Regions from separate parts of the Homo sapiens genome. Here regions 2 and 3 are each linked to region 1. Evidence: fine-mapped expression QTL. A gene starts in region 1. Each other region holds a variant in brackets. All regions are shown on one strand. Distances are between the middles of the regions. Region 1 holds the start of FLVCR2 (FLVCR choline and putative heme transporter 2). Region 2 overlaps FLVCR2 (FLVCR choline and putative heme transporter 2). Region 3 overlaps FLVCR2 (FLVCR choline and putative heme transporter 2).

Evidence for each region.
Region 2: its variant is fine-mapped to the expression of FLVCR2 in blood mononuclear cells (TOPMed, PIP above 0.99). The same link has a PIP of 0.9 or more in T cells, monocytes and whole blood.
Region 3: its variant is fine-mapped to the expression of FLVCR2 in whole blood (INTERVAL, PIP 0.98).

The regions. Positions count from the first base shown.
Region 1 is chr14:75,577,388-75,580,059 of GRCh38, reverse strand. It overlaps FLVCR2 (FLVCR choline and putative heme transporter 2), which reads right to left and starts at 1,440. Exons shown (of 10, transcript NM_017791.3): 1 at 419-1,440. The coding sequence starts at 1,087. FLVCR2-AS1 (FLVCR2 antisense RNA 1) reads left to right here and starts at 472. Exons shown (of 3, transcript NR_110552.1): 1 at 472-2,283. RefSeq lists a silencer at 1,495-1,564 and an enhancer at 2,275-2,334.
Region 2 is chr14:75,614,105-75,616,776 of GRCh38, reverse strand. All of the region lies in intron 1 of FLVCR2 (FLVCR choline and putative heme transporter 2), which reads right to left. Among named protein-coding and RNA genes, the nearest start is that of FLVCR2-AS1, 36 kb to the right of the region's middle. The variant T/A (reference allele first, on the strand shown) is at 1,456.
Region 3 is chr14:75,609,248-75,611,919 of GRCh38, reverse strand. The region is part of intron 1 of FLVCR2 (FLVCR choline and putative heme transporter 2); the gene reads right to left. It also overlaps the pseudogene RNA5SP387. Among named protein-coding and RNA genes, the nearest start is that of FLVCR2-AS1, 31 kb to the right of the region's middle. The variant G/AG (reference allele first, on the strand shown) is at 1,468.

The DNA.
Region 1 (2,672 bases):
GAGGAGATACTGCACTCTAGGAAAGCTGGTTGGTCCAACTGAAAGCACTGCCAAGTTCTGATGACACCAGAATAGTCTGATGCCCAGGGGCTGCTGCCAGACAGAAGAGCATTCCTGAAATTACAGGTCTAAGTTGGTGGACTGACACAGGTTCGAGAACGACACAGCGAAGGTATAGTATGTTCTAGAAGCATGCTTTTGGCTGGGGCAAGAGCAACTGTGGATGAAAGAGCAGGTCCCCCTGCTTTTGTTTCCCGCCTCTCTTACAGCATCACAATCACTGCCTGTCACACCCAGTTACTGTCACCCAGAGTCACAAACACTGTTGGACAATCAGCAAATTATAGCCTACCACACCCAATAGTTAGGTGCAATCTAACACACGCCCCTGGGAACATTCACAAACTGTTCTACCTACCTGATTGCCAAAGACAGCCACGGAGCAGGCTGTTGAAACCTCATTAGCCCCGAACCAGACGGAAGCGATGCGGGAGGGCATGCCCAGGATGAAAACCTGGGCCACAGAGCAGATGAGCTGGCCCACCACGGTGACCGGAAAGAGATGCGGCTTCAGGCTGCCCAGCTTCACCCAGGCCCCCAGGCAGTTGAGAGCCGAGCCAGTGAGAGCAATGGTGCGCAGGCCGAACTTCTCCAGCAGCCAAGCCACTGGCAGGAGCAGAGGGATGTAAGTCAGCATGTAGCACATGGACAGCCAGTCAATGGCAAAGGCACTGACACCGTAGAAGTGCATGAAGATGTTATTGATGGAGCCGTACTGGATCCACTGAAAGGAGTTGCACATGGAGTAGCAGCTAAACACCAGGACCACGGCCCAACGGCGCCTGCTCACCTTGATCACGCTGAGGTCCTCAGGGCCCGAGCTACTGGGGTGAGCCAAGCCACTGGGTTGGGCTAAGGCACTGGGGTGGGCCGAACTGCTGGGGTGGACAGAGACGCTGGGGTTGATGGAGACGCTGGGATGGACCGAGACGCTGGGATGGACCGAGACGCTGGGGTCCGCTTGGAGTGCGGACTCCGGCACAGGGGTGTCATCGCTCTCTTCCTGGTTGGGACCTTCATTCACCATCGCCACAGTCTCCTCTGGAATCCTGGAGAAGTGGTGAGGACTCCGGCAGTCTTAAGGGACAGTGGCCTCTGCTGGTCTCTTAGAGTTGAAAGGACACTTGCCTATTCCAGAAGAAACAGAGACTAGAGGCTGCGTAAAAGCCTCAAGTGGGGCTTCCTGTGCTCACCTCCAAGCTCCTGCTCCCACTTTTGCTTGGGGCTCTCTGTTGCCACCCGCGGCGATCGCTGTCCCAAGGCCGGCCGCACACGCCGCAGCCGGCTCCGGACCGCTCCTGCCTTGGGTCTCCCCACGAGGCGTTCCTTGTGCAGGAAAAGTTCTCTCCTTGCGCAGCCACTTCGCCCGCAGAGTCCTCTCCCGGGCCAGCTTGGGGCCTCGCCCAGTCGGGCACACGTGACCGCCCCGCCCCCGTCCTGCCTGGCTTCTTCCGCCCCCAACCCCCCCGCCACCACTCCACCCCCGACCCAGTGTCTCTTGCCTTCTCGAGCCCGGTCCTCCGGGCAGAGCAGTTGTTTCGCCACAGCTTGCGGGATGCATTCCTCCCCCACGCCCCGGGCGCCATGGAAACCGCCCGGTTAACCCCCACCCTTTGCACTGCCCCTCATATTCATTTGCCACCCGCTATCAGCGGACCCTGCAAGAAGATCCGCCTTCCCGAAGTAATGCCCAAAATAGAGCCTCTCCGGTGCCTGTCCGCATGCCCTGCGCGCGTGCACCAAAGCCCGGCGCCACCTAAGTGTTCTGGGGAATTCAAGAGGGATTCCCCAACTTTCTCCCCCTTGGCTTAGGCTCCCAGCCCTTTGCTGAACTAAAGAGAGATTTGTAGATTTCCCGGGCTGGTTGCGCTCCTGGGTTAAAGGGGAGTTACAGAAAACTCGCTTTACTCGCTTCTTTCCCTGCGGACGTGGTTTTGTCTTGGGGAGGTTAGATTTGAACCTGTTATGTGGGGCTATTTTTCCTGATGGATTCTGGGCGAAGACCCTAGGGTGCGGGGGAGGGAAAGGAGAGTTTGAAGAAGCCGAAGAAGCTGTCCGCGGTTGTGTGATGGAACGCTTAGCACAGAGCTGGCTCCGGGCTTGGTCTTGGAAGCGGTCTTTGAACTCAAGCAGCCCTAGTCTGCCACCTGCCGGTCCTAGCCCATTTCAAAGGGCAAACCCTCGACTCGTTGCACTGACCTCTGTCCTTGGCGAGGGATCCTGGTAAGGAGCCCAAATTCTCCCTGAGTTCAAACACCAGCTTAGCTACAATGAGGTGCCACTGTAGACCAAGGAACTCCACCTCTCTGCGCTTCAGTTTCTTCATCTGTAAAATGGAAATGATGAAATAATAGTACCTACCTCACCGTGTTGTTCTGAGACTTGAATGAATTAATACACGAATGCACTTAGAAAATTCCTGCCACATAGTAAGCATTCCGCGAATGCTGGCTATCCTAGCAAAAAGCTAACATTTGTTGTACAGTGCTAAACAAATTGAATGCATTAGCTCATTTATGCATCACAAGAATTCTGTGATAAAGTTACTATTGCTGGCCTAAATTTTATAGACAAGAAAACCCAGACTCAGAGAAGTGAAGTAACTTCTTTCT
Region 2 (2,672 bases), 37 kb before region 1:
AGGAGACAACAACCTCCACAAACAGGTTCTCACCTACTGAAACTCATTCCTCTCCCAACGTGCTGTGCTATTCAGACAAAGGCAAGCCCACCCTCACCCCTAGGGCTGGGCCCCAATTTGCTCAAACCAATTGGCTCATTCCTCTCCCCTGGGCATAATCACTGGGTATGGCTGGACATGTTCCCTTAGATTTCAGAGCTCTCAGGAGCTATCTTCCTAGTGCTGAGTCAAAAAAGTCCATACTCCATAAACATGTAAAATGCCATGTATCAATTAAAAAATATATATATGTATGTATCCCTTTATTGAGCCAGCTGCTTTCTTTGCACCAGAGTCCCTGAGGCTGAAGGCTTCCATCAAATTTGGTCCCTTTATGACCTAATCTGGGGCTTGCCTCATGCCCATGCTATGCTATTTTTATTTTTTAAATTAAAAAAAATTTTTTTTTTTTGAGACAGAGTCTCACTCTGTCGCCAGGCTGGAGTGCAGTGGCGCAATCTTGGCTCACTGCAACCTCCGCCTCCTGGGTTCAAGCAATTCTCCTGCCTCAGCCTCCCAAGTAGCTGGAACTACAGGATCATGACACCATGCCTGGCTGATTTTTTAATTTTTTGTGGAATTGGGGTCTCTCACTATGTTGCCTAGGCTGGTCTCAAGTGGTCTTCCCATCTCAGCTTCCCAAAATATTGAGATTACAGGTATGAGCCACCATAACTGGACTTACGCTATTTTTTTTTTTTTTTTTTTTTTGAGATGGAGTCTCACTCTGTCACCCAGGCTGGAGTGCAGTGGCACGATCTCGGCTCACTGCAAGCTCCATCTCCCGGGTTCATGCCATTCTCCTGCCTCAGCTTCCCGAGTAGCTGGGATTACAGGTTCCCGCCACCACATCTGGCTAATTTTTTTTTTTTTTTGTATTTTTAGTAGAGACAGGGTTTCATGTGTTAGCCAGGATGGTCTCAATCTCCTGACCTTGTGATCCGCCCGCCTCGGCCTCCCAAAATGCTGGGATTATAGGCATGAGCCATGACGCCCAGCCGGCCTTATGCTTTTTTAAATGAATCTCCCACTTCTCCTTTCTGCTTCAACATTCCTCAGAGACATCATCATACTAATATAGTGCTTAAGGGCTCAGGGTCAGGGGTCAGAAAGATCTCAATTCAAATCTCGGCCCTACCAGTTACTAGAGCTTGGCAAGTTAATTGACCTCTCTGTGTGTTTCCTAATCCACAAGAGGAAGAAAATACCACCTAGCTCATCGGGCTGAGGCTCACTCCCTGTCTGCAGGGTTGGCCCTTTCCCACACACTCTCACACAGCAGAGGTGACAGGCAGCAGAGGCCACTGGGACTCCCAAGATGCACTTGGTTTATTTGGGGAAGTCATACAAACCATCATCCTACCCTGGTTCTGCTTCACTTCCTTCTCTGGCTCCATCTGCGTGTCCTTCCTCAAT[T/A]ATCTTAGTCATCTTTGACTCTGCCCTCTTATATGCACTTCGTCTCAGATCCTCCCAAACCCTTCTGCAAAGTCCTCTTTGAATCTGCCCTGTCCCACTTCGGACCTTTCTGCCTTTCTCCCAGGCAACTGTGATCTCTCCTCTGCCCGACCTGCATGATGTACTCACATTCATGGTCCTTGGCGTTGCATTGACCCCACCGTCCCTGCTTAAAGAACTTCAAGGTGTCAGCCCTCTCAGAGGAAGGAAGCAGGTCCAAACCCCTCAGCTACTGTTCTTAGCCATTGATTTGGTTTGGCTCTGTGTCCCCACCAAAATCTCATCTCGAATTGTAATCCCCATGTGCCAAGGAAGGGGCCTGGTGGGAGGTGACTGGATCATGGGGGCAGTTTCTCCCATGGTATTCTCATGGTAGTGAGTTCTCACAAGACCTGATGGTTAGAAAAATGTTTGACAGTTCCTCCTTCAGACGCTCTCTCTCTCGCTCTCTTGCCTACCACCATGTAAGATGTGCCTGTTTCCCCTTCCACCATGATTGTAAGTTTCCTGAGGCCTCCCTAGCCATTTGGAGCAGTGAGTCAATTAAACCTCTTTTCTTTATAAATTACCCAGTTTCAAGCAGTTCTTTATCACAGCGTGAAAACAGACTAATACAGCTGTCTTTGCTAGTTTCAACCTTCCTTTCCAGACCCTTCTCTTCTGTATCCCTATAAATCCCCTATATTCCAGCCAGATTGAACAAGTCATGATTCCAACCTTCCCATCATCTCGTCTATACCTTTATCCCAAGTTATCCCCTTTTTAATCTTTCAGAGCCCATCACCATGTGAATTCTCTCACAGAGCTTTCCTTGACGATCCTCACTAGGCGTGATTGCCTTGCTCTAACTTCCTCTAATCTTTGGGTTGTCAGTCATTTTCCTGATACTTGCTAGTCTGGCGCTTACTCAATACATGGTTGTTGAAAGAATGAGCTGCAGTTAACTGGCATGTCAGGAAAGCACCATTGCCACTGCACATTTGTCATGTGAGCCCAGAACTGTGGAAAGATGTGGTTGGAAATTTAAGTCTAGACAAGGTTCTCAGAGAAAGTTTGATACTTTAAAAAGCATGGTTGAGGATCCTTTTAAAATAAGAGCCTCATAAAAGATACATTGAGGTTCAATCTAGACTTTCACACATTGGATTACTGTAAGCCCATCAACCCAAATGAGCAAT
Region 3 (2,672 bases), 32 kb before region 1:
ACTCAAACCAGGAGGAAGGAGGTGAATATGTACTGAGTGTCTGCTATGTGTTAGACAGCATGCTAAAGGCTTTTTCACATGATATTTCATCTATGCCCTCACAACTACCCCCTGAAGTTGGCACCATCATCTCTGGTTTGGGTTTTGTTTGTGGGTTTTTTTGTTTGTTTGTTTGTTTGTTTGTGAGACAGGGTCTCACTCTGTTGCCCAGGCTAGTGCAGTGGTGCGATCTCGGCTCACTGAAGCTTCTACTTCCCTGGCTCAAGCAATCCTCTCACCTCGGCCTCCCAAGTAGCTGCGACCACAGACATGCGCCCAACACACCTGGCTAATTTTTTGTATTTTTAGGAGAGACGGGGTTTCACCATGTTGCCCAGGTTGGTCTCGAACTCCTGGGCTCAAGCAATTCACCTGCCTCGGCCTCCCAAAGCGCTGGGATTACAGGCATGAGCCACTGTGCCTTGGCCTCTGGTTTGGTTTTTACAGATGAGAAAGCCTCTATAATTTGCCCAAGGTCAAAACAGCTTCTCCTGGCAAAACTGAGATTCATACCCTTGGCTATCTGATTCCAAAGCCCTCAACGGACAAGGTGAATGCCACAGAAAAGTGACTGCCCTCACACCCGACACTCCCTCCAGTCTCATATGCTCCATTCTGTAGTTCAAATGTCCCCAAATGTGTAGCTGTCGGAGGAAGCAAGGGTGAGAGGTGTCTCCAGCTACAGTTTGGTTTCTTTGCCACAGTTACACTTTACAGGTTTCTTGTTTTTATGTCATGCTTAGTTTTGTTTCTTTTTGTGTAGTGTGTTGTCTCCCAAACTAAACTGTTAGTACCTTGAGGACAGGGACATTGACTCACATTTGCTCATGTGACCCTCCCGCATACCACGTCTGACACAATCACAAGAACAGAGACAGCACTCAGGAAATATTTTCTGAGTGAAGAAATAACTCTTAGAACTGTGCAGCTCAAACCTCACTCAAGTCTTTCCAGGCTGCTCTGCAGTAAACAAGTTGGGCACAGTAGCAGTTTGCTGCATTGTAAGAGTTTAACCACCCAAAGCGAGTAGATGCCAGATGAAATGACCTAAGGAAGCCCCCAGACAGGGAAGACCTCTCATTTGGGGTGCCCCAAGATCAGGCATGGAGGGGATTCGAATGCAGACCAATCAACTTCTCACTCTTAGACCTACACTCAGTATTTATTGAGCACCTGCTGCATACTAGGCACCCTACTCAGAAGGGAAGAGAAAGATGCAAGACAAGGAGCTCACTCTCACCCGGTTTATAATGTAATATACCTTGATCTTGACCTACAGCCTTGGTGTTGGGTTTCCTCCTCATCTTTGTGGGGGGTGCAAGTTAGCTGAAGAGCAGAGATACACTAGGCTGTAAACAGAGAAGTTGCTAAGTTTAGGTGAAGAAAATGAGTTTCACAAGGAAAGTTTTCTGATTAAAGAAAAAAAAA[G/AG]GAACACTGACAAAGGCCGTGTTTTATTTTTTTAGCTAAGCCCGGTATTTATGCTTGCTTTCTGTCATCATGAACTCAGGAGCTTCCTGGCACACACTCCTCCTTTTAAGGACTTGGTGTTCCCCTTGAAGTTGTCCTCATGGTGAACTCCACAAAGGGCCAGCCTAGGTCTACTTTGGGTGCAGAAGTGAAGAATCCACTGCCTTTTCTTTCAGTGAGAGAACAAATCACTGTCACCTCAATACATTAATGTCCCTCTAGCTGACTGTGCTGAAAGCCAGTGGTCACAGAACTTCCCCATGACTCGGCTAGGAAGGAGGAAAAATGAGTGGGTGTCTTTCAAACCACCCGGCCAGCTGAGATCACATCAGATCACATCATGCAAATCTTACTCCAAAGTTTTCACATTTGAAGTAGGCGATGTGCAAAGCGCCATTCAAATGCTTTGGCACTGATTGCCCACCAATTCTGTCCCAGACACCAGCAATCAACAGCCAACAGAGGGATTCTCCGGTCTTCTGCATTCCCTTAACACTAACCCCCCATCTATCCCCCCCAACTCAAAGGTGCCACTCCCTGACCTTTGACAGATAAAACAGCCCAAAGGAGAATAATTGTCTCCTTTGTCTGCAAGGCAACATTCTGGCATTCCTAAAAGGGATGCTCACGTGACGACCAATGTTTCTAATCCTCCCATGTTTCCTTCTAAATCTGGATGGACTTTCTGGTAATAGCCCTCCTATTCTGATTTTTTCAGGGGTAAAACCCTGCCAATTACTTACTGGCAGGCCCTGGAAGAGTTGCTGCTTCATGGACTGCCATGGGCAAAACCCAGTTCCTCTGGAGCATGCACTTCAAGAAATAGATAGGATGGGACCCATGTAGCTTTTTCCTAAGAAGCCAACTTCATAAGTTAACTAAGCTTGCCTCAGGATCCCAGACAGACAGCTGGAAAGAAAAAGAAATCTCAAGCTTACACCAAAAAAACTATTAGTCACTCACATCTATAACGCCCTGAGAGAGAGAAAGAGAGAGATTGCAGCACCATTAGATCTGGCCCTGTTATTTAGGGAGTTACTCAGGGACCTGCTTAGCTAAAAACATCTCCTAATATCCTGCTTTGAAGTCACCCGCCCTCCTACTTGGGCTGACATTTGCACCATTAGCCGCTCCGGTGTGACTGGCTTATAGTGTAATCTCTCTTC